Linked DNA regions of Homo sapiens. The protein of the gene in region 4 purifies or fractionates together with the protein of the main gene of each other region. This does not show direct contact. Each region holds a gene or a part of one and is shown on either strand. Other genes may lie near its edges.

Region 1 (7,758 bases), on a different chromosome or scaffold from region 4:
CACTCCCTGACCAACAGCCTATTTGTGCAAGTTTACTATCATCAAGCAAAAAACTGACTCAGAACGGAACGTGACCTTTGGGGATGCGCGGAGAGGGGTCCAAAGTAGAATTCTAGATAAACATACACCTCTCAGAGACAGAGTTCCAGGTTAAGATTCAAAAGCTACCCAACCTCTCCAAGCCTCAGTTTCCTCACTGTTAAATGAGGATCATAGGCTTGCTTCATAAAGTTGTTGCAAGGGTTAAATTTGGTAAGACATTTAACAGTGCCTGCTACAGCCATTGTCCACGTAATTCACAGAGTGGTGTCAGGCCTTGAAATAGATGAAAGGAATAACGGTGATGAGACCAGACAAGATGCCCAGCTCATAAGTCGCCCCAGCAGTGTCAGAATGAGAGGAGCTACTGGTAACTAGAGTTCTTCATATCTTCACTGGAGAGGACACACATGGGGGCTACCACAAGATAAGCATGTGGCCACTGTACAGGTGAGTTATGTAGTGTGGGTGGAATCCCTAAAGGCCCTCTGAAATAGTTTCAAACAAATGGCTCCCAGGAATCAACTGAAACAAACCAGTCCAACCCAGCAGATATGGGTGGAAATGGGGTGAGTAGAGGAGGGGTTATGGCTACAAAATCTAAGCAGAAGACACTGGACCCCAACAAGCACTTTGCTCTGTGAACAGTAGCTGTGGCTGTATCGGGAGACCAACCCTCTGAGACAGCTGCTGTGGGACTGCTGACAGCATAGTGTCTTTGCAGCCACATCTTCAACAGCAGTGCATCTGAACACAGACTGCAAGTCTCTCCTCTCCATTAATCCTCATTTTAAGGGGACGGATACTGTCATGTTACAACATCCCCATCCAACACTTGTGGCCAATTGCAATCAGAAACCACCACCTAAAGAGGGTACAAGAAAGAACAGGATGAGAATGCGGGGGAGAACGCGTGTGCACCTGACCACACAGACTATACCACAGGCCCTGTTTGAAACAAAACAACAGCCCTAGCATCGTGATGTGGTCTCCCTACCCTTCCTCATCCAGCCTTGTTCACAGCCATTTCAGGTTTTTCTTACCTTTCTTTATAAAGGTACTGATGAATTCAGGTGTAATTAATTCATGAAGAGGTAAATTCTTCACAAAGTAATAGGGTCCAGTGTTCATGACCAGGTTTTTCAGTTCTTCCGATAGTATCCCACATTCAGGAATGAGAAATGAAACCTATTGGAATGTGTAATACAAACAAGGTCTTACTTCCATGAAGATGAACACCCAGGTTTTTAGGAATGAAACAAAATCATGAAAGTTGTTATTTCTCCACGAGTTTCACTGGAACATAAAAACACGGGCAACAAAACTCTTATGTTAACTTACCTATCTCAGGCAAAGAGAAATCTGACTACTTAAGTTTTTCATTTCTGCATTCAAACGTACAGTACAGGAAGGGGATTGAACAGAATACTTTTAATGGAAAACTCGTGCTTGCATTTAATCTTTTGCAAATTAGCAATGCTGTATATTTTATGTCCTGTTCCTTTCACTATTTTATTTTCAAGGAAATATAGTATAATTGAATATCCCTTGATTTGTTTACCCTGGTGTTATCCTGGAATGAAACAAACTATCTGTCGGGGCATAAGGAATTAATTTATGGACATCCAATTACTAAGAATCTATGTGCAAGCAATGGTGCTCCTGTATGTTTTCATTTTCGAGACAGAAAAATGCAACAGGCGAGTTAAAGTATACATCCCTGACTGCTGTGATGAGCTTGACATCCAAAATAGGTGTTAAAAACAGGGCAGGCTTCAAATGTTGCCACATTGTAAAAGTCATCACTGTCCCAAGGCTCAAACACCAGCCTGTTCTGACTGATCAGGTCACCACTTAACATCTCTGAAACACTGCTCAGTCAAACCTGAGTTATTAAGCTGATCCATTTAAAGTGTAAAATGTTTAATCCCCCATGATAAGGTTAGTTTCTTGAAGTCTCTCAGATATCAAATTAGTTCCAACAACCAATTTAGAAAATCAGTCGCTTCGGCCGGGCGCGGTGGCTCACGCCTGTAATCCCAGCACTTTGGGAGGCCGAGACGGGCGGATCACGAGGTCAGGAGATCGAGACCATCCTGGCTAACACGGTGAAACCTCGTCTCTACTAAAAATACAAAAATTAGCCGGGCGTGGTGGCGCGCGCCTGTAGACCCAGCTACACGGGAGGCTGAGGCAGGAGAATGGCGTGAACCCGGGAGGCGGAGCCTGCAGTGAGCCGAGATCGCGCCACTGCACTCCAGCCTGGGCGACAGAGCGAAACTCCGTCTAAAAAAAAAAAAAAAAAAAAAAGGAAAATCAGTCGCTTCCTGGGCCGAGCCTAGGCAGGATGCTCTGGTGAGATCCACAGGTACGCAGGTGGGAGAGGGATTCAAGCTGGGGAGGAGGCAGTGGTGGGGAGGAGGCGCGAGACCCGCCCTGATTTGGGGAAAAAGCGAGGTGCACGTGGCTGCCCCACAGCCTAACTCCCTGGTCCCGGCCCTGAACCTCGAATCCCTCCCTGGACTCACTCCCAGTTCGGCGGGTTGACACGAGTGAGCAGCCAGAACGCCCCTGACAACAGCTCCCTCCAGACTGGGTACCGCCCCCACGCCCGGCGCATCCTGGGAGTTGTAGTCCTGTAGCCCTGCAAGCCACTGGCTTAGAGCAGTTAAGAGACTACAACTCCCAGCAAGCCGGGCGAGGGCCCCGCCCCTCCGCGTACCGCCGGCGGCCCCGCCCCGCGAAGCCTAGCACTCTCCCCAAACCTCTCTCGCACGCGGGGACTGAGCACGGCCCGAAAAGCCGAGGACAGCCGGACTCACCCTGTAGTTATAGTAGTGCGTCTGCACAAGATGCCGGTGGCGCGACTTGTGGTTGCCGAAGTTGGATTTCTCGCAAACCAGTAAGTGCCGCGGCGCCTCCCGAAGCCGGCGCAGCGTGGCCATGCTCTCCTGGGTTCCTGGTCCTCCCGGCCTCCGCTGGCGGGGCACGCCCCGCCCCTTCCTCCCGCCCCGCCCCTTCCCTCCGGCCGCATACCCGCTGCTGTGCGCCCCTGGCGGCGGTGGAGTGGGGATGGCGGCGCTGGATTTCTGAGCAGTTCTTAGACTTCTTAGGAGCCCACGCAGCCGCTCTTTGGTGGATGTCTGAAGCTGTAAATTCACTGTCCCAGTGGCTGGGAACCTGGCTCTTGCCTTTTCAACGCCACTTTTCCTCCGTCCCCGCCATCCCTTGGAATTGCCCTAAACCCTCTCTGTGGGCCCCGCCTCGGAGCGCCCCTTGGACCCCAGCCTGGCGCCGGCGCATACCTCGGTCAGGCCCCTCAGAGGGACCGCTTCCTGCCACCGTTATAAAAGGAAAACATCGCATGGAAAGGCCCAGTTCCTTTAGTATATGGTCAAGAAATGTAGCCGCACAGTTAAGTAACCCCCTAAGCTGCTTTGGGGGCCACACCCAGCTGCTTTCTGACTTCTCACACTGTTTGGTTCACAGGACTCTGTTACCCATTGGGGACCTCTTGGCCATTATTAACACAGGCCAACAGGACTAAAAGTTTGTATCAGTCCTTCCCAAAACATTAGGGAAGGTTGTGCGGGAAGGTAAAGCACAATTTTTGCCTTACAATAGGACTCCTTTGAAACTACTATTGAGTTCCCTTTTAAATAGCCCTTCAGAACCGCTTTTAATAATGTGTTGTTTCTGGGGGTTAATAGTGATAATTCTCCTAAGTCATTTTTCCATTTCGTTTTTCTGTCACGGGCTTGGAGCGGTTAAGAGACTGCGGCTCCCAGCATGCGGTACGTTACTGATCAGGGCAAAATCAAGTATGTTACTACATGCTTCTCAAACTAGAGAGGCACAGCCCCAATTCTGCACTGGCAGGATACAAAACAGCAGAATATTGGTGATACATCTTCCTGGAACATCAGTTTTTCTATGAGATGTGGAAGAAATGGAATTAAGTAGTTTACAAGGTAAATAATTAAGAATTTAAAACTAAGCCAGTCACAGTGGGTCATGCCTGTAATCCCAGCACTTTGGGAGGCTGAGGTGGGAGGATCACTTGAGCTTAGGAGTTCAAGACCAGCCTGGGCAATATAGTGAGACCCCATCTCCAAAAATAAAAATAAAACTAAGACAAGGCTGGAAAGTCATCTGCCATTATAAACATCAGTAATCTGGCCGAGCACAGTGGCTCACGCCTGTAGTCCCAGCACTTTGGGAGGCTGAGGTGGGAGGATCACTTGAACTCAGAAGTTCACGACCACCCTGGACAATATAGTAAGACCCCATCTCAAAAAAAAAAATTAAAACTAAGACAAGGCCGGAAAGTCATCTGCCACTAAAAACATCGGTAATCTGGCTGAGTGCTGTGGCTCACGCCTGTAGTCCCAGCAATTTGGGAGGCCGAGGCGAGCAGATCGCCTGAGGTCAGGAGTTCAAGACCACCCTGGCCAACATGGTGAAACGCTTTCTACTAAAAATACAAAAATTAACAGGGTGTGGTGGCGCATGCCTGTAATCCCAGCTACTCAAGAGGCTGAGGCAGAAGAATCACTCGAACCTGGGAGGCAGAGGTTGCAGTGAGTCAAGATCTCGCCACTGCACTTCTAGGCTGGGCGACAGAGTGAGACTCTGTCTCAAAAAAAAAAAAAAAGTCAAAATGTAATCTATGACTGAAATGTCACATTTTCTTTCCAAGGAAAAACCTAATGAGAACCTGTTTCCCATTATTTTAAACAGCAGAATTATAAGGCGTGGCAAGTTAATTAAAAAAAACCCTACTAATTTCCTAGATCACAATATGGCAGCTAGATGTTTTATAAATAACAGCTACTAATAACATGTTAAGATGTAAAAGGCTTAAAGCATTGCTTCTTGGTCACCTCATATTTAATGTAATTGTCACCAGACAGTTGCTTTGTGTGTGGTAGCAGTGGCCCAAGACTGAAACATCACGGATGTACCTCTCCTTTGTCGACATTCCAAAACTCCACAAAGTGACTGGTGTGATCCTGATGGTCTACCAATTGTATTTGGAAGCACCGTGAAGCTTTTCCAGCAAACCATTTAGTTTAAAATGTTGCATATTTTGAAGATGCAAAATAAATTCTATCTATGTAAATATCAGCTGAAAAATGTATTGAGAGATATAAACTGCCCTCTTCTCAAGAGAGACCCCACAGAGTCTTGCAGCTTTAAGTCCTCCTCTCTGGCTGCTGATAACCCCTAGATGTGGCGCCTCTTCCCTGAGCGGAGTATCCAGATGACTCTAGTACAAGGACTCACCCCTGACTTCTTCCCTTCTCACCCGCCATGCAATCCCACAGTAAGTCTTGTGGCCCTGCCTGCAGCACGCATCCTGATTGCAGCCTCTTCTTGCTCTCTGCGTTTCTACAGCCAGTTTCAGCCACCTTCGTCACTTACTGGCCTGCTGCCCAAGACTGCCTCCAAACCTTCTCCTTGCTGCCTCTCTTGCCCTCCCACAGTCCATTCTCCACTCAGCATCCAGAGTGATCTCTTAAAAACATGAAAAACATAATATACCCCCACAGCCCCATTTAGACCCTACCACTGGCTTCTCACTGTGATGGAATAAAAGCTTACACATTGGCCTGAGCCTGCCTCTTCAGCCTCATCTCCTTCCCTTGCTTATTCACACTCTGTCTGTCAGATTTTCTGGTCTCTAGAGCTGAAAGCAGTCTTAACTGACAAACAGATATTAGATCATAGAATCTAGAGCACAGGGTATGGAAGGAAAAGTGCAAGATGGAAAAGCCAGAAATGGTTAAAAAAAAAAAAAAGCACATGAAACAAAACATATCTATATGTATACCCAAAATAGTAACATAATTTTGAAAAATCTGAGCTAATAGACTTGCAAAGAAATAGAAATATCTTTGATCATATTCTGAAAACAAAAAAATATAGACTTAGTAAATATAAAAGGACAAAAATTTTACACATCCCATTTCCGGGCCATAATGCAATAAAGTTAGAAAGAACAGAAACAGAATTGGCCGGGTGCTGTGGCTCATGCCTGTAATCCCAGCACTTTGGGAAGCCAAAGCGGGTGGATCACGAGGTCAAGAGATCGAGACCATCCTGGCCAACATGGTGAAACCCTGTCTCTACTAAAAATACAAAAACTAGCTGGGTGTGGTGGCATGCGCCTGTAGTCCCAGCTACTTGGGAGGCTGAGGCAGGAGAATCACTTGAACCCGGGAGGTGGAGGTTACAGTGAGCCAAGATCTTGCCACTGCACTCCAGCCTGGCAACAGAGTGAGACTCTGTCTCAAAAAAACAAACAAAAACAACAACAAAAAAAAAAAACAGAGAAAGAAACAATTTAAAGATGCTCAACTCTTTGACAATGTTAAAATATTCTTTTAAATAAATTAATGCCTGGGTCAGGGTGCAAATCCAAAACACAATGACAGTGTCCATAAACTTCTGTGCTTGTAAATGTATCATAACCATATACAGGCCGTATTGGTGAAAGGAGACAGCTGTCTGACTCAGAAACACAGGGAGTGATCAGGTTATGTTCATTAGGATCCTAGCACTGCCCTGGAGTTGTTTAACATCATCTCTTTACAGTTAGGAGCAGACTGCAGGGAAATGTATCTATTGCAGACAACTGTGCTAAATCAGAGGCCGCCCTCCTGCTGAACCTGAACTTGACCTCACAGTTCCTGTCAGCACAGGGTTCTAGGCAGCTGCTACAAATCAACTGGTGTTGGCTTACAGATTGAAACTGCCCTCAGACAGCAGAGTGGAAACTGGCACCAATGGCTGCAATGGAGAAAATTAATGGCCTGTGGGCCACACACGGTGGCTCATGCCTGTAGTCCCAGCACTTTGGGAGGCCAAAGCGGGTGGATCACTTGAGGTCAGGAGTTCGAGACCAGTCTGGCCAACATGGTGAAACTCTGTCTCTACGAAAAATACAAAAGTTAACCGGGTGTGGTGGCGCATGCCTGTAATCCCAGCTACTCAGGAGGCTGAGGCAGGAGAATTGCTTGAACCCGGGAGGCGGCAGTTGCACTGAGCCGAGATGGTGCCACTGCATTCCAGCCTGGGCAACAGAGTGAGGCTCCATCTCAAAAATAATAATAAAATAATAATAATAATAATAATGGCCCCTGCTATGGTCTGAATGTTTGTGTTCCCCCAAAGCTCATGTATTGAAATGCAATCACCAATGTGATGGTATGAGGAGGTAGGGCATTTGGGAGGTTAGAAATGGGATTCATGCACTTATAAAGGAAGCCTCAGAGAGCTGCCTTTCCCCTCCTTCTATATGAGGACAGAGGGAGAAGATGCCATCTAATGAACAAGAAAGCGGCCCCTCCCCAGACACTGAATCTGCCAGTGCCTTGATCTTGGACTTCCCAGCCTCCACAACTGTGAGAAAGAAAAGTCTGTTGTTTATAAGTTACCCATTTTATGATGTTCCCTTATAGCAGCACAAATGGACTAAGACAGCCCCCAAGAAGAATGTATGACCCACCTAAGAACTAGACAGTGTCATTTTCTCCTGGGCTGCTCTCTCCGTGACTGGAGTGGAGATCAGTGAAGGACACAAACATTAACCATGGCAGCTCCATAGGCCATATCGCTGTACGGAGGTGCACAAATGAAGTCATGCCTTAAAAGCAGAACATGGCCAGGCATGGTGGCTCATGCCTGTAATCCTAACACTTTGGGAGGCTGAGGTGG
Region 2 (7,569 bases), on a different chromosome or scaffold from region 4:
TACAATTCTGTTGATATGGGAACAAAGTCAAACAAGAGGCCATGAGTTCATTTATTCAATCAGTTACTTTTGGCTGAGTACCACCTACTTTGTGCCAGCTCTGGATATACCCTCAACACCCTAGATCTCTGTCTCATGTATGTTCCTCTTCCACTTCCATGTGTCAAAATTTAATTCAAGCATTACTCCCTCAAGGAAACTGCCATTTTTTCCCTTCAGATCTCCCAAACTTCCCTCTCAATCTGGGAGATAAATCTCTGCTTTGTGCTCCCAATACATCTGGCTAAATCATTTTATAATATGGTTTTCTTGCCTGGCTCCCCCTCGGCCTTAAGCTGCAAGAGGACAGGGGTTGGGTGGAGCATTTTTCAGTTCACTCAGGAGGGGTGAATGGAATAAACTTAGGATAAGGCCAAAGACTAATCAAGCACACACCCAAGCCCACACACAGCCCAGAAAAGAGAGCTCTTCTGGGAGGATGAGAAGGGCTCAATGATTGCGTTGGATGTGAAAAACCATCCTCTTTTTCTAGGCTTCCCGCAGAAGAAGAAATGACTCAAGAGCCATCCTATCTGAGCCCAGGACTTCTCCTTGATATAATGGGAATAACAATATCTCTCTCATTGGCTATTGTAAGGATCAAATCAGATAACTGATGTAAAATGCTTATCATAATTATACAGTACTTTTTTTTTTTTTTTGAGACGGAGTTTCACTCTTGTTGCCCAGGCTGGAGTGTAATGGTGCAATCTCTGCTCACTGTAACCTCTGCCTCCCAGGTTCAAGAAATTCTACTGCCTCAGCCTCCCAAGTAGCTAGGATTTTTAAGAGACAGGTCTCATTCTGTCACCCACACCAGGGTGCAGTGGTGCAATCCATAGCTCATTGTATAATAACATGGAACTCCTGGGCTCAAGGGATCCTCCCACCTCAGCCTCCCCAGTAATTCAGACTACAGGTGTGTGCCACCACTTCTGGCTAATTTATTTTTTGTAGAGACAGGGTCTCACTTTGTTGCCCACGCTAGTCGTGAATTGGCTTCAAGTGATTCTCCTGCCTCAGCCTCCCAAAGTGCTGGGATTACAGGTGTGAGCCACTGCTACCAGTCTTAAACAGTACTATTATCTTCCAGTCAGAAATTTCTATGGTCTTCTTCAAGGTGCAGATACTTGTTGCCACAGCCATCCCTTCAGGCCAACTTCTGACCCCTCTTCCCTGTTCATCTCCCCTATTCTGTCTTGTCTTTTTCTTCTCTCCACTTCTCTCTCCCCTCTTCCACTTCTTTCCTTTCCTTCCTTCTCCCTTCCTACTTCTCCTTTCCTCTACTCTCCTTCTCTCCTCTCTGGTCTCCCTTCTCTTCTTTTCTCTTCTTCTCCTCCTCCCTCCCAAACAACTCTAGTCTCTGCTTGCTTTGCTCAGGAAGCAGTACACTAGGCAAGAACTGAAACAAATTGCCTCCATCCACATGTAGTTCTACCACTAATAATGCCTTAGTTTTCTCAGATATAAAAAATGGATATTGATTTTAAAAACAAAATAACAAAAAGTAAAAAACAGTACTTCTGCAAGTCTAGATCTGAAAACAGTAATAAAACAAAAATAAAAAACAGCATTTAACACACAGCTGCTTTGAAAATAAGATACATACATAAGTACTTAGCAAATTCGCTGGCCCTCAGTATAGTGCTAAATACTGATTGTTATCTATTCCTATTCTTTCTTACCTCTTCTCTTCCTCTTCACCCAGGCTTAGGGTGCAGAGAAGAAAAGAAGTTTATATGGTACAGTCCACAGCAAAAGTTCTGTGACTTTCAAAGAAGCCCACTTTAGTCTCATACTAGCATCAGATAATTAAACAGTCTCCTAGCCACAGCAATTAGGCAAGAAAAAGAAATAAAAGACATCCAAATTGGAAAGGAGGAACTCAAATCATTACTGTTTGCAGACAACATGATCTTATACATGGAAAACCCTAAAGGCTCCCCCAAAAAAACTCCACCATTTAAAACTAGCAAGTAAATTCAGTGAAGTTGCAGGATACAAAATTGACATACAAAAAAACAGTAGCATTCTGTATGCTAATAGGGAACTATCTAAAAAGATCAAGAAAACAATTCCATTTACAATAGCTACAAAAAAAGATACCTAGGAATAAACTTAACCAAGAAGGTGAAAGATCTGTACAATAAAAAAAATTAAGGAAATAAAGATGACACAAATAAGTGAAAAGATATCCCATGTTCATGAACTGAAATAATATTGTTGAAGTAGACATACTATCCAGAACGATCTACAGATTCCATGCAATCCCTATGAAAATACCAATGACATTCCTCACAGAAATATTTTTTAAAATCCTGAAGTTTGTGTGGAACCACGAAAGTCCTCAAACAGCAAGAGCAGTCCTGAGCAAAAAGAGCAAAGCTGGAGATATCACAAAGCCTGACTTAAAAATATGCTACAAAGCTATAGTACCCAAAACAGCATGGTACTGGCAGAAAAACAGACACATAGACCAATAATGTAACAGAATAGAGAGACCAAAAATAAATGCATGCACCTATAGCCAACTGATTGGTATTGAGGGAGGGATTGAGGGAGGAGGATGGGGAGAGGTTGGTCAACAGGTACAAAGTTAGATAGGAGGAATAAGTTCTGATGTTGTATTGCACACAAGGTGACTATGGTTAACAGTAAGGTATTGTTTATATATCACGAAACAGCTAGAAGAGTTTTTTTTAATGTTATCACCAAAAATGCATGAGGTGATGAATATGCTAATTACCTTGATTTGTTCATTATACAACATATACATGTATCAGAACATGAAATTGTACCCTATAAATATGTATAATTACAATGTGTCAACTAAAAATGAAAAAATAATTGAACTATCACCTTATTCACCTTCACCACACATTGGTCATATTTCTGACCAATCTAGATTGTTATGGTCATAGGTGATGATGCCTGTGTGACCCTGCAAAATTAACACTAGATATTCTCATGAAAAACAAAGCGTTTGCTTCATATGACCTTATTCTATTTGCAGAAGTAATATTCTCTTCTACTCCCACTTAGGAAATATCAAGTACTGGAAAAGGCAAAATATCTCTTCTTTACAAAAGTTAACCAAGAAGAGAATTGCATGCTACTGCATGGAACAGATCCTTCCTCCCTTCTGAGACCGACAAGAAAATCGCATAAAGGAGTACTAGTTAAGGTGTGGTCCATAGACGAGAGACTATCTGTGAACTGTTTGTGATCAGTAAATAAGAGAAATTGATGGGTGAAGCATGTGGGTGGGCTCCTGTAATCACAGCTAGGAGAGAGGATTGCTTGCGTTAGAGTCCATCCTGGTCAATAACGAGATACTCTCTCTAAAAACAAAACAAAACGAAACGAAAACTCAGCAGGCCACCAACTAGGATACTCCCTAGGTCAAATGACCGAGCCTCTAATTCTGTGATTGTTGTTGCTGTGCGCACGTTAATAAAACAAACAAACAAACAAAAAGTGAAGATGTTTAGAAAGTTTACAGTACTTTGGCATTGTCCTGATAATCCAAGCTCCTGATCAGCAGATTCTATTCAGCCAGGTATAGGGCAGTTCGAGTGTTGTCAAATTTGTGATTCCCATGAGGCCAGGCTGCTTACTGGTAATGCATAAAGGACCACATCCTGGTTCGCGAAGAGTTTGGGGGTAGAGGAAAAGGAGGGAGAAACTGATCCTTCATCACAGGTAGTTTGAGAGCACTGATGTAAACTATAGTCACACTTTTGTAGTATAATTGATTATTATCCTCAATAGATCATTTACACTAAGTCGGAAAAAAGTGGAAACATCAGATATGTGGGATATGCGTCACCTTGTACATTTCTCAGCTGGAAAAGTGTAAAACATCTCAATTTTGCACCTCCCTTTTCAAACATGTCTTTGGCTAAATCAATGTTGGCTCTAACCGCTCGTCCTAGAGCGAGTCCCGCCATCTTGTGGTTGAAGATGTTGACTGCCACAGAGAATAGCGGGCTTTGACATCAACAGTTCTGATTGGGTAAAAAGACCCTCGTCTTGGGGTAGTTCTCTTTTGAAGTCCTAGAGTCCGTCACACACAAACGCCTTCTTCCCGGTAAGTCCATTGTAAACAACGGAATGGACTTTAGGGAAAGGAAAGGAAAACGTGTTCTTTAAGACTCTTTAAATAGCGTTTTCACCCATTAGCAGAATTCTCTGATTCATGAGCAGCACTAAGTAGATACCGTGTGCGTGCATTTTGAATGAATTCATTTCTACACTATTTTATAGGAGTATTGAATAGTTGGGAATTGGAACCCCTCCAGGGGGAACCAAACATTGTCGTTCAGAAGAAGACAAAGAGAGATTGAAATGAAGCTGTTGATTTCAACACACAAATTCTGGTGGTAGATGAAAGCAAAGCAAGTAAGTTTCTCCGAATCCCTAGTCAACTGGAGGTAGAGACGGACTGCGCAGGTTAACTACAGCTCCCAGCATGCCTGAGGGGCGGGCTCAGCGGCTGCGCAGACTGGCGCGCGCGGACGGTCATGGGACTTCAGCATGGCGGTGTTTGCAGATTTGGACCTGCGAGCGGGTTCTGACCTGAAGGCTCTGCGCGGACTTGTGGAGACAGCCGCTCACCGTGAGTTGCCCCGGCTTCGCGCCTGGCCAACCTCATGCCACCCAGACCATCGGGCCACACTCCGGAGTAACTATTTCCTGATGGGTCTCGGTCAGGTCTCCCAGAGTCTCTGGGATGTCCCTGGAGGCTGATGCCCGCCGAGGTGTTGGTCTGATTCCTAGCGCGGGAAACTCGAAGGTTCTGGGGGTTGTTATCTGGTTCAGCTACTTTCCTGCAATGAGGGAACTGAGGCCTAACGAGGGCGAGGGATTTGCATAGGGGCCTACAGCTGATAGGTGACAGAAGCCGGAGCTGGACTCCAAGGGTACAATCTTCTAAGCTTCTAAGTTACTATCAGCCCTTCCTGATTCTCACGACAGTGTCTAAACAAATACTGGAATTTGGGGCACGGACAGGAAGCGCCGTGGAGGCTCGGAGAAGGAGGAGGACGTGGGAGTGTTGGAACAATACTATCTAGACAGAGAGAGGGTAGGTGGGGGCAGAGGACATACACAGCGGAGTGGAGGTGGAGGAGGAGGATAGCATGGCCCAAATCGAAGGGAAGCGAAAGCCTTGAGAGACGAGAACCTGTTTTAACTATTGGAGTTAGTCATGGGTTCTGTATTCCGTAGACTGTAAAGTGTTGGAATAGAGAGATTAAAAAGAATCAAGAGGTTCGTGTAGTAACATCTGCTCCTCAGAGACAGTTTTCAGCTCATTGTGAGTTCTGATTACTGATACTGTTCAGAGGTGGTGCTAGAAATGACAACCACTTCTTGGCAAAGTGAATCACACCACTTTTTTATTGTTCTCTTTATGAAGTATCCGTGGCGAAATGACTGTCCCTTTCCACTGCTGCCACTAAATGAACGTTATCTCTGTGGTACTTTGCTCATCAGCACGAAGACGAAAGTAGACATGATGATCTGGGCCATTTGGCGCTAATGTTCTTTGATCCTGTAAAATAAGTTTTCCTAGGTGTAGTTTGTCGCAATTATTACCTCCTCAATGAGGCTTTTCCTGACGCCATCCCATTTTTGAATAAATCATGAGCTTCCTAAGAGAATTGCCATGTCTTATCCTTTTATTTACTGTGCTTAACACGTTCACTCTGCAGGCACCAGTACATGGCAGTTACTCAGTTAATGCTTGTGGAATAAACTGAACACATTAAAAAAATTAATACAAAAAAGAAAAGTTAATAATGATTTCTTTAGAGAATTTCCCCCAGTTTAAAATACACTTGGAAGAGGTGTGGTAATATATGTACATTGTTAGTGGTTATTTGTTTGTAAATTAAATGGAATTCATGGCATATAAAGTTGCCTCAACTTACAAGTCAAAGACAAAGGACTGCTCTGCTATTTGATGAGTCTGGAACTAAATAGTGGACATTTGCAAAGAATAGGAAAGACAGAGCCCTGGTTCTCAGTTTCTGATGTGATACAAGAAACCAATAATAAGCTTCAGAAATATACTGTGTAAATTAAAATACCCTAAAGCCTGATTGGGGAAGTAAGTACTCCTAAGCTGCCAGATGAGGAGTAGTCTAGGAAAAAGTTTTGTGGAGAAACAGATCCTAGTTGACATTTCTGTAGAACGGTAGGGACATTGTTTAGTAGCCAAAAGGATATCCTAAATGGGTATAACAAGGAAGTTTAGAGCAGATTTGGGAGTGTGGTAAAGAAGAATAGGGAGGAGGTGTGGCTGGTTGATTTGACTAACTGGGTGCAAGGTGAAGCCCAAGGTACAGGCATACTTGTGATTTTTTTTTTGTTTTTAAGGGTAACTTTCTTCAGGGAGCCTTTTGTGACCCCTACACCAGGTTTCACTGTGCTATGTACTTCCATAGAATCCTTACTTATAAAAAACATGTATTTATATACAATGACTTGCTTAATTGCCTTATTTGCCTTCGTTCTCCAACAGACTAGGCTGTAAATTTCTTGTGGAGAAGGATTATATTATTTATCCTGTATGCTCAACACCAGTTTAGGGCTTGTCAAGTAATGGATGCTCAGTAAATATTTGAGGGAGGAAGGGAAGAAGGAAGTTGGACAAACTGTTGAGAGTTTGGCATTGATATGTATTTTAATGTTAATATCCTTTCATCCCCATTGGTATTTTTAAAAATTAAAGATGGGAGTCATGATTTAGATTTTTTTTTGGTAGCCCAAATGTCCAGAACAGTGCTAACTGATGAGGATAATAAAGCAAGCCCTTGACCTCAAGGAGCTCCCAGTCTGTCGATGGTGTGCAGCTTAAAATGGGAAGCGGGCAGTGGTGTGAGGGAGTTATCACTCCATTTCTCCTTAGGAAAGGAGTCTCTGAAGGAAGTAGAAGGATAAAAAGCAAAAGAAATGAACGGGAATAAAAGTGACAGTGATAAAGTAGGAACTTGATGGGATAAAAATGAATATAGGGTCATGAAAGAGAATGACATTTGAAAAGGAGAAGCACAAAGTTAAGAGTCTTTAGTATCATTTTAATAATAATTCATAATGGTTAAACAAAGACCTGTGTGCCAGGCACTGTTCTCAAACACCTCATGTGTATTATTTCATTTAAATTTCATGACAGTGTATGAAGAAAGTGTTGTTATTTTCACCATTTGACAGATGAGGAACCTGAAACTTCATGTTAAGTAACTTGTAAGTGGTAGTGCATAGACTTTAAATCAGGCAGACTGACACTAGAGTTCACATTCATAACCACTCCTCAAATGTCCTCCTACTCTTGACATCTAGACTCAGGATGGACCTGTGTTACAGGAAGGAGAGGTTGTTATATTTAACAAAAGTGTTCAATTTTTCTTTTTCAGTTGGCTATTCAGTTGTTGCTATCAATCATATCGTTGACTTTAAGGAAAAGAAACAGGTAAAATAATATTTCTAAAGTTAATAAGTTCATAAATAAGTATTTGTAATTCTGTT
Region 3 (7,915 bases), on a different chromosome or scaffold from region 4:
AGCCTGACCAACATAGCAAAACCCCGTCTCTACCAAAAATTTTAAAAAATTAGCCGGGCATGGTGGTGCATGCCTGTAGTCCCAACTACTCGGGAGGCTGAGGCAGGAGAATCACTTGAACCTGGGAGGCGGAGGTTGCAGTGAGCAGAGATCACGCCACTGCACTCTAGCCTGGACAACAGAGCTTAAAAAAAAAAAAATCATAGGGGGTTAAAGTGGGTTTTTCTTGCTGTCTTCTGTTCCAGTGGAGGATCACAGAACTGGTTGAGCCAGATTACGAAGCACTGATCTTAGATTTTACAACAGTGATGTTATTATCCCCAGGAGCAATTTGAGGAGGATCAGAATCTTGCAGCCTCCAGCTGCATGGCTCCTAAACCATAATTTCTAATCTTGTAGCTAATTTGTTAGTCCTACAAAGGCAGCCTGGTCCCCAGGCAAGAACGGGTTTTGTTTTGGGAAAGAGCTGATATCATCTTTATTTCAAAGTCAAACTATAAAGGGCTGTTACAAAGTTAAACTATAAACTAAGTTCCTCCCAAAATTAGTTCAGCCAATTCCTGGGAATGAACAAGGACAGCTTAGAGGTTAGAAGCAAGATGGAGTTGGTTAGGTCAGATCTCTTTCACGCTAATCATTTCACTGTTAATTTTTGCAAAGGCAGTTTCAATTGGACTGGGAGAGATAAAAGAGGAAGCAGGAAACGAATGCAGAGGGCCATAGCAGGGGTGCAGGCAAGAGAAGAGGGTGGCTGTGGTGGTGCAGAGAAGCGGGCAGTCATGATTTACTTCTGATGAAGAGCCAGCAGGACCTGAGGACAGACCAGCTGCAAGCCGTGGGAAGGAAGAAGCAGCACTGTAACATGTCCATAATGGCCCCAACGCCCAAGCTGGAAGGTTGTGGGTTTACAGGAATGAGGGCAAGCAACACCTGGCCCGCCCAGGGCGGAAAACCGCTTAAAGGAATTCTTAAGACACAAACAAAAGCATGAGCGATCTGTGTCTTAAGGGCATGTTCCTGCTGCAATTAATTCAGCCCATCCCTTCCTTTCCCATAGGGGACTTTTAGTTAATTTAATATCTATAGAAACAATGCTAATGACTGGTTTGCTGTTAATAAATATGTGGGTAAATCTCTGTTCAGGGCTCTCAGCTCTGAAGGCTGTGAGACCCCTGATTTCCCACTTCACACCTCTATATTTCTGTGCGTGTGTCTTTAATTCCTCTAGCGCCACTGGGGTCTCAGCACATGCACACATATTGGATTTCATTTTCACATTTTCCCTCTTTCTGCTTTATTAGTGACCTAGAAACAGATACAACTATGTAAAAAACAAAACAAAACAGAACTTCTATATGGTGTAGTGGCATTTCTCCTATGCCATGGTGGTGTTGTGAGGATTAAATAAATTAATACACGTTAAGATGCTTAGAAAAGTGCCTGGCACATATACAGTGCTCATTGCATATTATTTTTATTTCAATTCAAATGGAAAAAGACTAGTTTACCTAGCATGGGGCTTTTGTATAACTTACTATCCATTTTGAAAAAATGTCAGATGCTCTTACATTTAAGTGAAAATACATTTCATATCAATTAAATATGTGCATGGAAGAAATCATACTAGAAAAGTATGAGAAAAACATCTGATTAGCCAGGTGCAGTGGCTCACACCTATAATCCCAGCACTTTGGGAGGCCAAGGCAGGTGGATCATGTGGTCAGGAGATAGAGACCATCCCAGCCAACATGATGAAACCCTGTCTCTACTAAAAATACAAAAATTAGCTAGGCATGGTGGTGCATGCCTGTTATCCCAGCTACTCGGGAGGCTGAGGCAGGAGAATCGCTTGAACCAGGGAGTCGGAGGTTGCAGGGAACCAAGATCGCACCACTGCACTCCAGCCTGGCAACAGAGTGAGACTCTGTCTCAAACAAACAAACAAAAAAATCTAATTGAATAGTTAGTTGCCTAACTTTGACAAAGCAGGACTTTTTAGACCACACAGAAAACCCAGATCCAATAATGAAAAGAGTGACTTGTTTGATCACATACAAAATTTTGTAATGTTAAAAAGTTATAAATTATGCCAAAGATAAGGAAGAAGAAAATATTGCATCACATATGACAAGCAGAAAGTGAATTTCACCAAAATAAAAGATCTTCTAAAAACTGATAATCCAACAAGAGATTTCTCTTCATAAGAGAAAATGCAAACCATCAAGGGATAAATGAAAAGAGGATTTGCCTTTCACCTATCTAATTTGACCCAGCCTTCTTAGTCATTGATGCTGGGAATATGAATTGCTACAACCTTTTCTGGATGATCTGGCATATAAAAAATGTGCATATTATTCTACCCAGTAATTTATCTTTTAGGAATTCAGACAAAAGAAATAAAACCACCAGTACTGTATTAACTAGCAAAGCACGAATTTTTTTCCAAATGAACATCAATAGGAAAATAAAATATGGTTATTTATTAAATAAATTAAATTATGTTTCATTACATTTTGTAATATGTTCAGCTATTTAAAAGCATGTACTAACTTGAAAAGATGTCTGTGGCCTGCTGTTAAGGAAAAAAGACAAGTTATACAGTAAGGAACTAACATTTTACTTTTGGTTTTGGTTTTGTGTGTGTGTTTGGTTTGTTTCTTTTTGTTGTGGTCGTGGTAAGTGGTGGGGGGTAGCATATTTATACACGTACTTAAGTGTATAAGGACATAGGTAGAGGAGACACCCAATTATTCATGTTGATCGCCTCAGAGAAGTGGGATGGAAAGGTGGGAAGAGCAGGGAAAATAACTTTTCTTCGGAAAAAGTTAAAATGCCTATAGAGATGTAAATATATACTTTCTCTTTACAAATCTTTATATAATTTAGCCCCCCGCCTCCCGCCTTTTTTTTTTTTTTTTTTTTTTTTAGACGGAGTCTCGCTCTGTCGCCCAGGCTGGAGTGCAGTGGCTGTGATCTCGGTTCACTGCAACCTCCGCCTCCTGGGTTCAAGCGATTCCTGTGCCTCAGCCTCCCAAGTAGCTGGAACTACAGGCGCATGCCGCCACACCTGGCTAAATTTTTGTATTTTAGTAGAGACAGGGTTTCACCGTGTTGCCCAGGCTGGTCGCCGACTCCTGAGATCAGGCAATCCACCCGCTTTGCCCTCCCCAAGTGCTGGAATTACAGGCGTGAGCCACTGCGCCTAGCCAATTTAGCTCCCTTTTAAAATTAAAAATGGGCTGGGCATAGTGTCTCATACCTGTGATCCTAACACTATGGGAGGCTGAGGTGGGAGGATCACTTGAGCCCAGGAGTTCAAGACCAGCCTGGGCAATATAGTGAGACGCCCATCTCTACCAAAATAATAATAATAATAACAACAACAACAACAACAACAACAATACCTACGCATGGTAGTGTGCCTGGTTCCCAGCTACTAGGGAGGCTGAGGCAAGAGAACCCTTTAACCCAGCCCAGGAATTCAAGAATGCAGTGAACTGTGATCACACGACTGCACTCCAGCCTGAGCAACAGAGTGAGATCCCATCTCAGATAAATAAATAAAGCAGGCTAAATAAGGGTCCACTATCCAGAACATACACATTAAAAGAACCTTACAACTTATCAACAAAAAGACAACTCCAATAAAAAATGAGCAAAGAACTTAAACAGCCAAAGATACATAAATTGCCAACAAGCACATGAAAAGCTGCTCAAAAGCATCAGTAGTCAGGGAAATGTTAATCAAAACCACAATGAGATGCTACATCATACTCACTAGGAAGGCTAGATTTAAAAAAAAAAGAAAAAGAAAAGCAAATGTTGGTGAGGATACGGAGAAACTGGAACCCTCATTAAGCACAGAATTACTACATAACCCAGCAGATCTACTCTTAGGTATTATACCCCGAAGAACAGAAAAAAGGCACTCAAACAAATGCATGTACACACATGTTCACAGCGGCATTCATTCATAACAGCCAAAAAGTAGAAACAATTCAAACGTTCAACTGATGAATGGATAAACCATTGTGATACCGCCATACAATGGAATATTATTCAGCCATAACAACGAATGAAGTACTGATACGTGCTGCAAGGTGGATGAACCTGATACATTATGCTAGGTGAAGGAAGCCAGACACAAAAGGTCGTGTGTATGATTCCATTTACATGAAATGCCCAGAATAGGTAAATCCATAGAGACAGAAAGCGGACTGGTGGTTGCCAAGGCCTGGGAGGGAGAGGAGGATTGGCCGTAAGTGCTTCATGGAGTTGGCTGTCCTTCGGCGAAATATTTTGGAAATAGCAGAATGGTGCTTGCACAACATTGTAAATTTACTAAACGCCACTGAATTGTTCACCTTAAAATGGTCAATATTACGTTATGTGAATTTCACTTTAATTACAAAAAGAGAAACGCTAGCGTTTACGCAGGCGGAGGGCAGGCTGGACTGGGGACGCTCCTCCCGGCCGCCTCGTTGCTGGCAGCGCTTCCGCCCGCCGGCGCACCAGTCAGTACCGCGCCCGGCGAATGTGGAGGGCGAAGCTGCGGCAGGGCAATCACAAAAGGGCTGTCAGAGAGGAGGCGAGGCGGGAGGAAGATGGAGAGGCGGGTGGGAGCCTCACCTTTGGACTCTATCGCCACAGCCCGGTCTAGCCGCTACGCCCGAGCTCAAGTCTGACTCGAAACTCCGCTGGGTGCCTGAGAGGACCCGGCAGGCCAAGGGGTGGAACTGAGGGGGCGGGGACGCGGCGGGCGGGTGGGGCCGCCTCCCGGCTGGGCACGCCTCCAAGCCAGACTGGACGCGAAGGAAACCGGAACCTGTCTGCCTACGGTGCCTGTTTCCGGAAGCAGCTTGAGTCCGGACACCAACGACGGGGACGCTGGGAAGCCGACTTCCGGCGCCCTATTTTCTCACCTGGTTCCCGCGGCGAGCCAGCGGCAGCGGCGGCGGCGATGAGACAGAAGCACTACCTTGAGGCTGCAGCGCGGGGACTGCACGACAGCTGCCCGGGCCAAGCCCGCTACCTCCTGTAAGAGGACTGGAGGGGAAGCGGGAGGCGAGCGGGTAGGTGTTCCTTTGCTCCTCACAAGTCTCTTTCTCTTTTACAGCTGGGCCTACACTTCGTCGCACGGTAAGAAGAACGCCTGTCTCTTGTGCTTTGGGCTCTTGTCGCCCCGCTTTCCTCTGTTCCGCACAACGCTCAAATAAGGCCGATGGACTCACTTCCCTCCATAAAAACAACAACAACAAAGCCCGCATGTGTCTCGGTTTCGTGAAAAATCCAAATTCTTTAATGTGCCTTGTCTTGCTTTGTTAGCGGCATTTGACACATTGATCAGTCTTGAAATAGTTTCCTCCCTTGGCTTCTAGGTCATTACGTAGTTCACCTCTTCATTTATTACTTCTCGATTTGCTTTGCTGGTTCCTCCTAATCTCCCCAAGCTTTAAGTATTGTCGTGGCCCAGTACTCAGCCCTTGGACCTCTTTTCTAGGCACACTCGCTTCCTTGGTGACAGTTTTTCATCCAATCTCATGGCTTTTAAATACCATATACTGAGGACTTACAAATGTATATACTCAGCGCAGACCTCTCCTCTGAATTCTAGACTCATATATCCGAATGTCTTCTTGACAAATTCTTTTCAATGTCTAGTAATTCAAACTTAGCTAATATGTCCAAAACCTGAGCTTTAACCCCCAACAAGATCCTCCAGTTTTTCTCATTTCAGTAAATAATTCCATTCTTCCCTTACAGTTATTGAGCCCAAAAACCTTGGAGCTATTCTTGACTCCCTAACTCTCTCTCCTCCCCCAGGCCAGTATGCGAGCAAATCCTGTTGGCTTTAAAATGTAGCCAAAATCAGCCAGGAGCGGTGGCTCACCCCTGTAATCCCAGCACTTTGAGATGCAGAGGCGGGCGGATCATTTGAGGCCAGGAGTTCGAGACCAACCTGGCCAACATGGCGAAACGCTGTCTCTACTAAAAATACAAAAAAATTACCTGGCATGGTGGTGCACGCCTGTAATCCCAGCTACTCGAGAGGGTGAGGCATGAGAATCTCTTGAACCCGGGAGGTGGAGGTTGCAGTGAGCGGAGATGGCGCCATTGCACTCCACTCCTCACCACATCCATTGCTACTACCCTGCTCCAGGCCATCACCAGCTCTCTCCTGGATTAATAAAAGTGAAAGTCCTTTAAAAGGATTGTAAGGCCCTGTGTCATAGACCTGCATACCTCTCTGACGTACTCTTTCCTTCACGCAACTCCAGTCACACTAGGTCTCCTTGCTTTTCTGTTTCAGGGCCTTTGCAGGTACTCTTCACTCTGCCTGGGATTCTTGCCTCACATATCTGCTTTCATGTGAATCCTCCATTTCCCTCTGGTCTCTATAATATCACTCAATGAAGCTTTCCCTAGCCACCTATTTAAAATTACAGTAACTCCATCAATACTTCTATTCCCCCCTCCTATCTTACTTTTTTATTCCCAGCACTTAACATTTGACGTTGTTATATTTATTGTATGCCTCGGTGAATTGTCCTTTGTTCACTGCTGTGTCTCCAGCACTTAGAACAGTGCCTGGCATTCTTAATTGTCACTTAGTGAATATGAATGAGTTTCACATTTGGCAGAGCTAAGTTTAAGTGTGGTCTTTAGCTTTATAAGTGCTGTTGCATCCCTGGCACTTAGCACAGTGCTCAACAGTAGATACTATTCATTGTGCTAATTATTTAAAAAAAGAAACAAAATCGCAGTGCAATTTGTTATTTTGTGGTAAATGCATTGGTAAAATTGGTGAAACATAACAGCCTTTTAAAACTTAGTAGCAAGTAATGAGAAGTGGCTAGATTTAGGATATATTTTAAAGCCTACAGGATTTGCTAGCATAGGTTGGAGATTTGCCTATCTGTTGCTGAAAGGAGTGAATGGATGGAATTGTAGTATTTTGCAAGGTAAATTACTGCCAATTTATCTTTTTGTAAATTTTCATATTTTGAGTTTACTTAATGTGTATCTGCTTATATTAAATTTCAATATACTTTTTATAAATGTTGACAGTTTGAGGTAACAAAATATTCTGATTTGCTGAATTGTGAGTTTCATTTGTATAATTTTAGATGATAAGAGCACTTTTGAAGAAACGTGTCCATACTGTTTCCAGCTGTTGGTTCTGGATAACTCTCGAGTGCGTCTCAAACCCAAAGCCAGGTTGACACCCAAAATACAGAAACTTCTTAATCGAGAAGCGAGAAACTATACACTCAGTTTTAAAGAAGCAAAAATGGTGAAAAAGTTCAAAGACTCCAAAAGTGTATTGGTAAGATTTCAGTTCCAGTATGTATGAGTAAACTAGAATTTTCTTTTCTTTCACTTAAAATCAGTTTAAGAATCAGCCTCAGTATAACTCAGAGATTTATAGTAGTATATTTGGATTATCAAAATATATACATAAACACTTCTCTAATGATTAGTGTTTCATTATAAGGACAGCTTACTTTTATTTTTCATGATTACCTAAACCAAACATGGTGAGCTCTCAATTGTTTTGAGATCCCATTGTTGAGCATTATTTTTCACAAATGTGCGGATTTCTTGAACTGACCGTTATGGCTCCACCTAAATTGCAGTTACCACTACATTATTTTTTCAGTTAATGCTCCTTTGCTTCAGATAGTACTATGTTATGTATGTAGGTATCATGTCACTTCTTCAGCTGTCCTCCCACTCCATGTCAGAGTGGATTTACAGGTATGCCCAACAAAGGTGAATGCATCTTTTGTTCTTTCAACATTTTATTGAGGGTCTATCATATGCCAAGCAACATTTAATATTGGGGATATAAGATGGAATAAAACAACCAAAATCAGATTACGTACGGTTTACTATATGGAGGCCAGTAGCAAAT
Region 4 (7,210 bases):
ACCATGTTGGCCAGGCTGGTCTCAAGCTCCTGACCTCGTGATTTGCCCGCCTTGGCCCCCCAAAGTGCTGGGATTACAGGATTACAGGCATGAACCACCATGCCCGGCCTCAGGCCCTGCTTTCATAGTCCTGGTAACCCGGCTATCAGTCACTTGTTGTCTTGGAAAGTTGGACCCTTTTCAGAACCAAGACCAGTCTCCCTTAAGCTTCTACCATGCAGGACCTTGTCCAAGTTTTATCACTGCCTTTAGATGCTGAAGTCCAGGAGAAGCTAGGCCATCTTGTCAGGACAGTTTACATTCTTTCCATGCTTCTTGGGCCACCCCTGAGAGGGTCAGACAAGCAAACCCAAACCCCTTGGCCCTCTCCAGGGACTCATCAAGAGCAGGAATTTGGGGAGAGCAACGAGGGACAAAGTCTGGATGACAAAGCTCACTCCAAAGCTCAAGCAGAGATACTGCAGGGGAGGGAAACCTCCCTAAGAGCCCCTCCAGTCAGCCACAGAACGTATCTCTTGTCACCAGCAGGATTTATTTCAGGGTTCTGCCAGCAAAATGACTTATAAATACATTCTTCCGCATCTCCCCCTTTCCAGGGGTGCTGCTGAGTTGCATGGGATGAGATCTGCTTCTGAGATCCTGGGGCTGTATGCCACCCCCAACTCACCAGAGCTCTTCCAGCACACAGCAGCACCCCCACCCCCCAGCTGGCTTGGAGTTGGGCAGAGAAGCTTATGAGGCTGTTATCTCTCAACAGACAGCTGTGCAGGGCTGGAGGCAGCAGCTTATCAGGAGGCCTGCAGTGATTCACAGCCCAAGACCCAGCTTCTCTGCTGAATAGTAATTTCCAGCAGTGGATTTGTGCTCAGTCTCTCTCCTCCCCCTTTCCCAAGGGTGTGCTGTCCTTTCTCAGAGAGAGGGCAGTGAAGGGGAGATCCTACCCACAGAGCTGGGGGCTTTGTGCCAGCCTTCTGGGTAAGGTTCAGTTTATTGTCTGGAGGCTGCAGATTCAGGGACCTCAGCAGGGTCTGCCACCCTTTGCAGTGACCTCCAGGAGAGTTCATCGATGCTGTCCTTCCACTCCTTCCTTCCCCTCCCAGAAAAACAATGTGCCGCTCCCTTTCCCTTAGTGGCGATGTACAGGGGTACACGGGCCCCCATTTGCAACAGCCTCTGAGGCCAGGGCCAGCCCGGGAGGGCGGAGTGGGGGAGGAGAGAGGAAGAAGCCAGGGACTGGGCAGTGCCTTGCACCATTTTGAAGCTGTTCAGTCTCTGTGCCTGACCCTGAAGACTCCAAAGACTCAGGACGCAAGGCTGGAGGGGAGGGGAGACACAAGGGGCCAGGCGAGAGCTGTCTCTGCACAGGCGGGTGGTTAGAAAAAAAATGGGGGACACAGCCATTTTTGTGCTTGTTTTATTGGAAGCAAGACTCCAGCCAGCTGCAGGGCTCAGGGGAGGAGGCCTGGAGAGTTCAGTCCTGGGTCTCCCTCTGGGCCAGCAGGGGGAAAAGGGGTGTTAAAAGAGCTAGAACCCTCAGAGATGCTCCTCTGAAGCAGGGGAAAGAAAACTAGAAAGGAAAACTGTCCCAGGGCGGGGAGCGGAATAGGGCCCCCACATCTCAGACTCTCCTACCCTCAAGCAGTTAATTCTCACCCCCTGCCTTCCTCTGTCAACGGTGGGGGTGATTCCAATAACTCTTCTCAGCTTCCATACTTCAGGTGCTCTTCGTGAATGCTGGGTGGCTTTAACCCTTGGGGGTCCCAAACAAGTTTCCAGAATCCCACTGTCCACCATTCTCCCCCAAAGAAGGTCCCAGAAAAGGTGAAGTTCCGTGTCTTCACGCAACACGGGCATAAGCAGCAATTATCGCACGAAGTTTCCCTAGGGTGGTCGGGGATCCTCTCCTGCCACTCCTGGGGCCCCTCTCTTGTCGCCTTAAGGTCCATGCTACCTGTCTTGAGGAGCTGTGTCCAGGTTGTGGGCTCCGGAGGACCGAGGAGTGAAAGGCTGGAGGTACATCTGAAGGTGGAGGCGCTGGCGGAAGATCCTGCCGGACTAGGTGGCCCACAGTCCGGAGTTTCAGGCCGTCTGATCCTCGTCCGCAACCCCTGGCTCGGGTTGCGATCGCTTCGCGGAGCCTTCTCCAGCTGCGGGTTCCCCTAGGCTCCTCTTGGACGCTGGCGCGGCTGGCGGGGACGAGGGACCAGGATGGGGATTCGGGGGCTGGTAGCCGGGCTGTCGCGGATCCAGCGCGTCCTTGGAAAGTAGGATGGCGAGGCCGGGCACGTTCTTAAGTACGCTGAGACTAGCGGCCGGCTCGCCAGGCGTCTGACCCTGCGTGGGCCCAGGCGGGAGGCTCTGCCACACCTCGCGTACGCTCCGGTAGCGCAGCCGCGTGACCTGGTGCAGGCCCGCCAGGCGGCGCTTGAGGATCTCGGCGCACGTGACGGTTTTGGTGGTGGCCCGGCCGCAGCCGCTGAAGACGATGGCGCGCGTGGCTGGCTGCGCCATGCTGGCGGTGGCGAAGGCCATCAGGTTCCGGATCTTGCTGCCTTCCTTGACCCGCATGTGCACCGCGCCCGGCGCCAGGTCTGCGAAGGGGCCGGAGCCCGGGCCGCCTCCCTCGGCCCCGCACCCCGCTGGCGCCTCTTCGGAGCGCACCTTACGGAAGTTCTCCATGCGCCGTCGTCGCCGGGACCGCCGGCTTTGCCATGGGGCGGCCTCAGCCCCGGGGCTGCATGGCCGCCGGTCGCGCCTTGCAAGGGCCAGCAGGGGTAAGGGCGCCGGAGCAGCGCAGACGCCGGCGGGCGGGCTGGGACGGCGCGATCTCGGCCCCACTTCTCTCGAGCGGGCGCCGCTCTACTCAGCGCTCTCGGCGCCGGGTGCTCCGCGCCTTTAGCTGAGGCCCCGCCCCTGCCGCCAGGCCCCTCCCCTGACCCGGCCCGGCCGGGCCCGCCCGGGCCCCAGCCTCACTAGCCTTTCCTGGCGAGTCTGGGTCCTCAGCTACGCGGGCGTGGGAGCGGGCGCGCTGCGGGGCGCATGAGCAGGTGAAGGTGAAGTTCCACTATAATCGCCATCAGCGCTCTGAGAGCCAACCCTCACAAACCGGCAGTCTAAATAAAAGCTGCGCTTGCCGTGCAAACACTGCTTCAAATCCGGTATCCGAGCCCTTCCCATTTGCAACTGAAGGCCGCCCCTCGTCCCCTCCCAGGGAGAGATTTCCAAGAGGCTTGCTGGGGCCTTGCCCCTCCTCCCCCGCCCCGGGGAACACCCCCACCTTTTTTCCGCTCCCAAGTATTCTTGCCTCAAGGACAGCTAGTGCGCGGTCAGCAGAGTGCGGGAGGAGCTGGCTGCGGCTCCACTCCGCGCCTCCCCGCGGGCGATTACGTCGCGGCGTGGTCCTCGCGGGGCGCGGAAGACCCAGACTTCAGCCTCGCCACGCCTGCCCGGAGCTCGAGGCTCCCGGACCCCCGTCCACCCCTGGGACGTGAGGAGTGAGGCTTTGGGCCAGGCTGTTCCCCGAGGCGCGTGGGGAAGCGGGCGTGACCTCTTCTGAAAAGGCGGTAGGCTCGCTCCACCCAGGCCCTAGAGCCCACCCTTAGAGCTGCGCGCTTTAGGGTGAGCCAGGCACGATGCCTTGCCAACGTGGCCGCCCCCTTCCTCCCAGGCGGAATTCGCTCAGGCAACATTGGCCCCTTGAGATCCAGTGGGGTCCTTTTCGAAAGGAGGCTAGGTGAACGCAGGTTTTAAAAAAGAGAAGGGAGGGGCCGGGCGCGGTGTCTCACGCTTTTAATCCCAGCACTTTGGGAGGCAGAGGTGGGCGGATTACTTGACGTCAGGAGTTCGAGACCAGCCTGGTCAACATGGTGAAACCCCGTCTCCATTAAACGTACAAAAATCAGCTCGGCGTTGTGGCACGCTCCTGTAATCCTAGCTGCTCGGGAGGCTGAGGCAGGACAAGCGCTTGAACCCGGGAGCTGAAGGCTGCAGTGAGCCGAGATCATGCCACTGCACTCCAGCCGGGGCGACAGAGCAAAGCTCTGTCTCGAAAAATGAATAAATTAATTAATTAAATAAAATACAAAAGAGAAGGGAGGGATACCCCATTCTCCAGGATGTGATTATTATGCATTGCATGCCTGTATCAAAACGTCTCATGTACCCTCTAAATATAGACACCTATTGTATACCCACAAAAATTAAAAAGACTTAAAAAAAAATAAAAGAGAGAAAGAAGGGAGGAAGATGGGGAGTTGAAGCCCTGGGGGCATTATGGAACTACTGGATGCCTCTCCGGCGGAAACTCCACGGGACCGAAAGAGAGGCCCGGGGTCTCCTGCCGGGTGAGAGAAGCATTAGAGAAAGATGAGATTGGGGGCTGTCAGGACTACTGATGGAAGGGAGGGGGTCTGAGAAGGGGCCCGACCCTCCCTAAAACTGCTCTCGGGATTCCCCCGTCCTCCTTCCACCCGCCCTACGCAGTCAGGACTGAGAGAGGGCGGCAGATCTGGTCCTAGCCAGGGGACTGTGACGGGGCGTGGCGGGGAGGGACACAGAGAGCTGGGGCGGGCGGGCCACCGGGAAAGTGCTGGGGGCATGACAGTGCCTTGGATTGCTGGGCCTCAGTTGGAGATGGGGCTGCCAGATGCTGTTCTCCCTCCTCCCGCTGTTCTCGCCCTCTGGGCATCTGCAGCAGCTCTCAGTCCCTGCTGTTCAAAACCAGGGTTTACTTCCTTGTCACTTCTTGGGAGCGGCCCTCGGTCCCTGCTGTTCAGAACCGGGATTTACCCTCTTACCACTTCCTGGGAGTGGCTGCGGCGACTGGACCTTGGCACCGCAATGTGTGAATGGCTGACCCCCTCCCCGTCTCCTGGTGGGATCAGGAACCCTCGGGGTATGCTCCGAACCGGGACTTCGGTCTCGGTCCAGTCTCCATGGGCCCCACACAGCGGTGGGGGCTGGAGGCACAGCAGCCTTGGGAAGAAACAAAGACTGTCCGCAGCGCGTAGCGGGGCGTGGAGAACCGAGGGCTGTGTAAGGTCAGGCCCTGAGAAAAAGCCCCCGAAAGGCTGGAAGTTACGTTGGAACGGGCTGGTTGTGGAAGGAGCGAGCTCTCCGTCCCCGGGAGTATGCAAGTTTGGGCTGCACGATCACTTGGAAGGGATTGGGCGGAGTTCTGTCATTTGGAGAAAGGGTCCTGGGAGCTTCAGGTTTGTGTAGGGCGAGGACGGGGCGGTTCTGCGTCCGGCCAGGTTGGCCCTCGAGGACCCAGCCGTCCCCAACCTCCTAAACTGCTGTCGGATGTAGAAGACTCGCATTCACTGCTCTCCACAGTCGGTGAAGGGAGAACGCCGAAAAGGGCCGCATTCCCTCCTGCCGGTCCCCTCCCCTTCCCGCGCTCCCTCTGCAGCACTTAAAATGTAAATGTACATCGTGATTAGCCGCGGGGTCGCTAATTACAGCTGAAGCCATTCATTACACTGTCAGCGCGCGTCGCAGCCCGCCGGCTGTGCGCTCCCTCCTAGCCGTGAAGGGGTGTAGGGGGTGGGGGCGGGAGATGCGGGGAGTGAGGGAGGAAGGATGGGGTGCTGTGAATTAGGGTAATGTGGCAGGCCTGGAGGAAGCTGGAGTGGGAGAGAGCGGGCAGCGAGCGGGGAAAACAGGGTGGGCGGTGAAGGACGGGGCGGGGTGGCGAGGAGAGAGGAGAAACGCGAGAGGCAGGAAGGAATTGGGGCATGAAGTAGTGAGGACACAGGGAAAGGGGCTGTATGAGGGGGGAAACAGCGTAGGGGACAGGGCGAAGGGAGAAAAAGCTGAGAAGAGGGTGGGAACCCCAGGGTGGGGCCAGAGTCAGAGGAGGGGAGCACAGGGCTCAACTTCAGAAAGGCTGGTAAATTTTAAAGTAGAGCATCAGTGGTGCACACCACACAATGGTTAGAAAAGTGGAGTCAGTGAAGACGTTGTGTTAAAGGAGCTGGGTGCCAGCCATACACAGAGTAGGGGGGCATTTATTTCCGTGTGTGTTTATAGATGTAAATGTATTTTTAAAATATCTGCAAGAAAACAGCACACTGACCTCTTGTTACCGCATGAAGTTTTCATTACCTTCTTTAAGAAAAGGACAATTAAATATGAATACAGAGTCTTGGAGCAGCTTGCATAAATGAGCTACTGACCCTGAAGCTTCAGCTTCTATTAGCTTCTTTCTGCCTCTGTGTGACCTTGGACAATTTACTTAACCCATTTGCTTTGGCTTTGTCATCTGTAAAATGGGGCTAATTATAGTAATCTACCTCACAGAGTGATTATGAGACACAGCCGTCTTGGAACCTTGGCTGCTAAGTTCTCAGGAAATGTTGGCTGTTATTATTTTTCATATATTATTTGTGAATTTAAAAAAATTGTAAAGGGATTGGGGGAAAGAAAACTGGTGAAAAGGAAAAGAAATTGGGAAAGACTCAGAAATAATAGCAGTTTTCACTCACAGTGAACTGGTGAGTGGCAAGCTAGACTCCTTTCACCCTGGGAGGAGGTGTTGGGGTAGCTGGGCTAGAGGCCAAGCCTAGCCAATACATATCTGTTAAGGTTCCCTGGGACCTTTCCAGCAGCACACCCTACTTCCTGTGGACAAATCTCTCATGTTCACACTGGAGGGGGATCGCTGGTACAGCCCCTCTCCTCTGTCTCTTGTTGCAGGAGGAGGATGAGGAGCTCTTAAAACCCCTGATCCTAGTCCCAGCCTCTTTGGGCAGGGTCTTGGGAGCATGCAAGTAGAGTCAGGAATTAGAAAGTTAGCAGGGCCAGGCCGGGCGCAGTCGCTCACTCCTGTAATCCCAGCACTTTGGGAGGCAGAGGCGGGCGGATCACGAGGTCAGGAGATCGAGACCATCCTGGCTAACACAGTGAAACCCTGTCTCTACTAAAAATACAAAAAATTAGCTGGGCGTGGTGGTGGGCGCCTGTAGTCCCTGCTACTCGGGAGGCTGAGGCAGGAGAATGGCCTGAACCCGGGAGGCGGAGCTTACAGTGAGCCGAGATTGTGCCACTGCACCCCAGCCTGGGCGACAGAGCGAGACTCCGTCTCAAAAACAAAACAAAACAAAAACAACAACAACAAAAAAGAAAATTAGCAGGGCCAGAGGGAACTCAGATTTAGCAGGCACCCACCGAGTGCCCAGCATTGGGTCAGATGTGTTTAATCTCCACACTC

The links.
Region 1: the proteins of RPP25 (region 4) and RPP40 purify together in Homo sapiens (affinity purification with mass spectrometry; 5 studies listed by BioGRID and IntAct, with this or other methods). This does not show direct contact.
Region 2: the proteins of RPP25 (region 4) and RPP30 purify together in Homo sapiens (affinity purification with mass spectrometry; 4 studies listed by BioGRID and IntAct, with this or other methods). This does not show direct contact.
Region 3: the proteins of RPP25 (region 4) and RMP24 purify together in Homo sapiens (affinity purification with mass spectrometry; 3 studies listed by BioGRID and IntAct, with this or other methods). This does not show direct contact.

The regions. Positions count from the first base shown.
Region 1 is NC_000006.12:5,001,019-5,008,776, forward strand, and holds the start of RPP40 (ribonuclease P protein subunit p40), read right to left. Parts: upstream 3,020-7,758; 5' UTR 2,985-3,019; coding exon 2,862-2,984; exon of another isoform or gene 2,798-2,861; intron 1,228-2,797; coding exon 1,083-1,227; intron 1-1,082. UniProt on the Homo sapiens protein: Component of ribonuclease P, a ribonucleoprotein complex that generates mature tRNA molecules by cleaving their 5'-ends. Also a component of the MRP ribonuclease complex, which cleaves pre-rRNA sequences.
Region 2 is NC_000010.11:90,867,412-90,874,980, forward strand, and holds the start of RPP30 (ribonuclease P protein subunit p30), read left to right. Parts: upstream 1-4,562; 5' UTR 4,563-4,575; coding exon 4,576-4,657; intron 4,658-7,457; coding exon 7,458-7,513; intron 7,514-7,569. UniProt on the Homo sapiens protein: Component of ribonuclease P, a ribonucleoprotein complex that generates mature tRNA molecules by cleaving their 5'-ends. Also a component of the MRP ribonuclease complex, which cleaves pre-rRNA sequences.
Region 3 is NC_000018.10:35,967,769-35,975,683, forward strand, and holds the start of RMP24 (UPF0711 protein C18orf21), read left to right. Parts: upstream 1-4,910; 5' UTR 4,911-4,960; coding exon 4,961-5,037; exon of another isoform or gene 5,038-5,098; coding exon of another isoform or gene 5,099-5,116; coding exon 5,117-5,139; intron 5,140-7,127; coding exon 7,128-7,327; intron 7,328-7,915.
Region 4 is NC_000015.10:74,953,905-74,961,114, forward strand, and holds RPP25 (ribonuclease P protein subunit p25), read right to left. Parts: upstream 2,869-7,210; 5' UTR 2,680-2,868; coding exon 2,080-2,679; 3' UTR 514-2,079; downstream 1-513. UniProt on the Homo sapiens protein: Component of ribonuclease P, a ribonucleoprotein complex that generates mature tRNA molecules by cleaving their 5'-ends. Also a component of the MRP ribonuclease complex, which cleaves pre-rRNA sequences.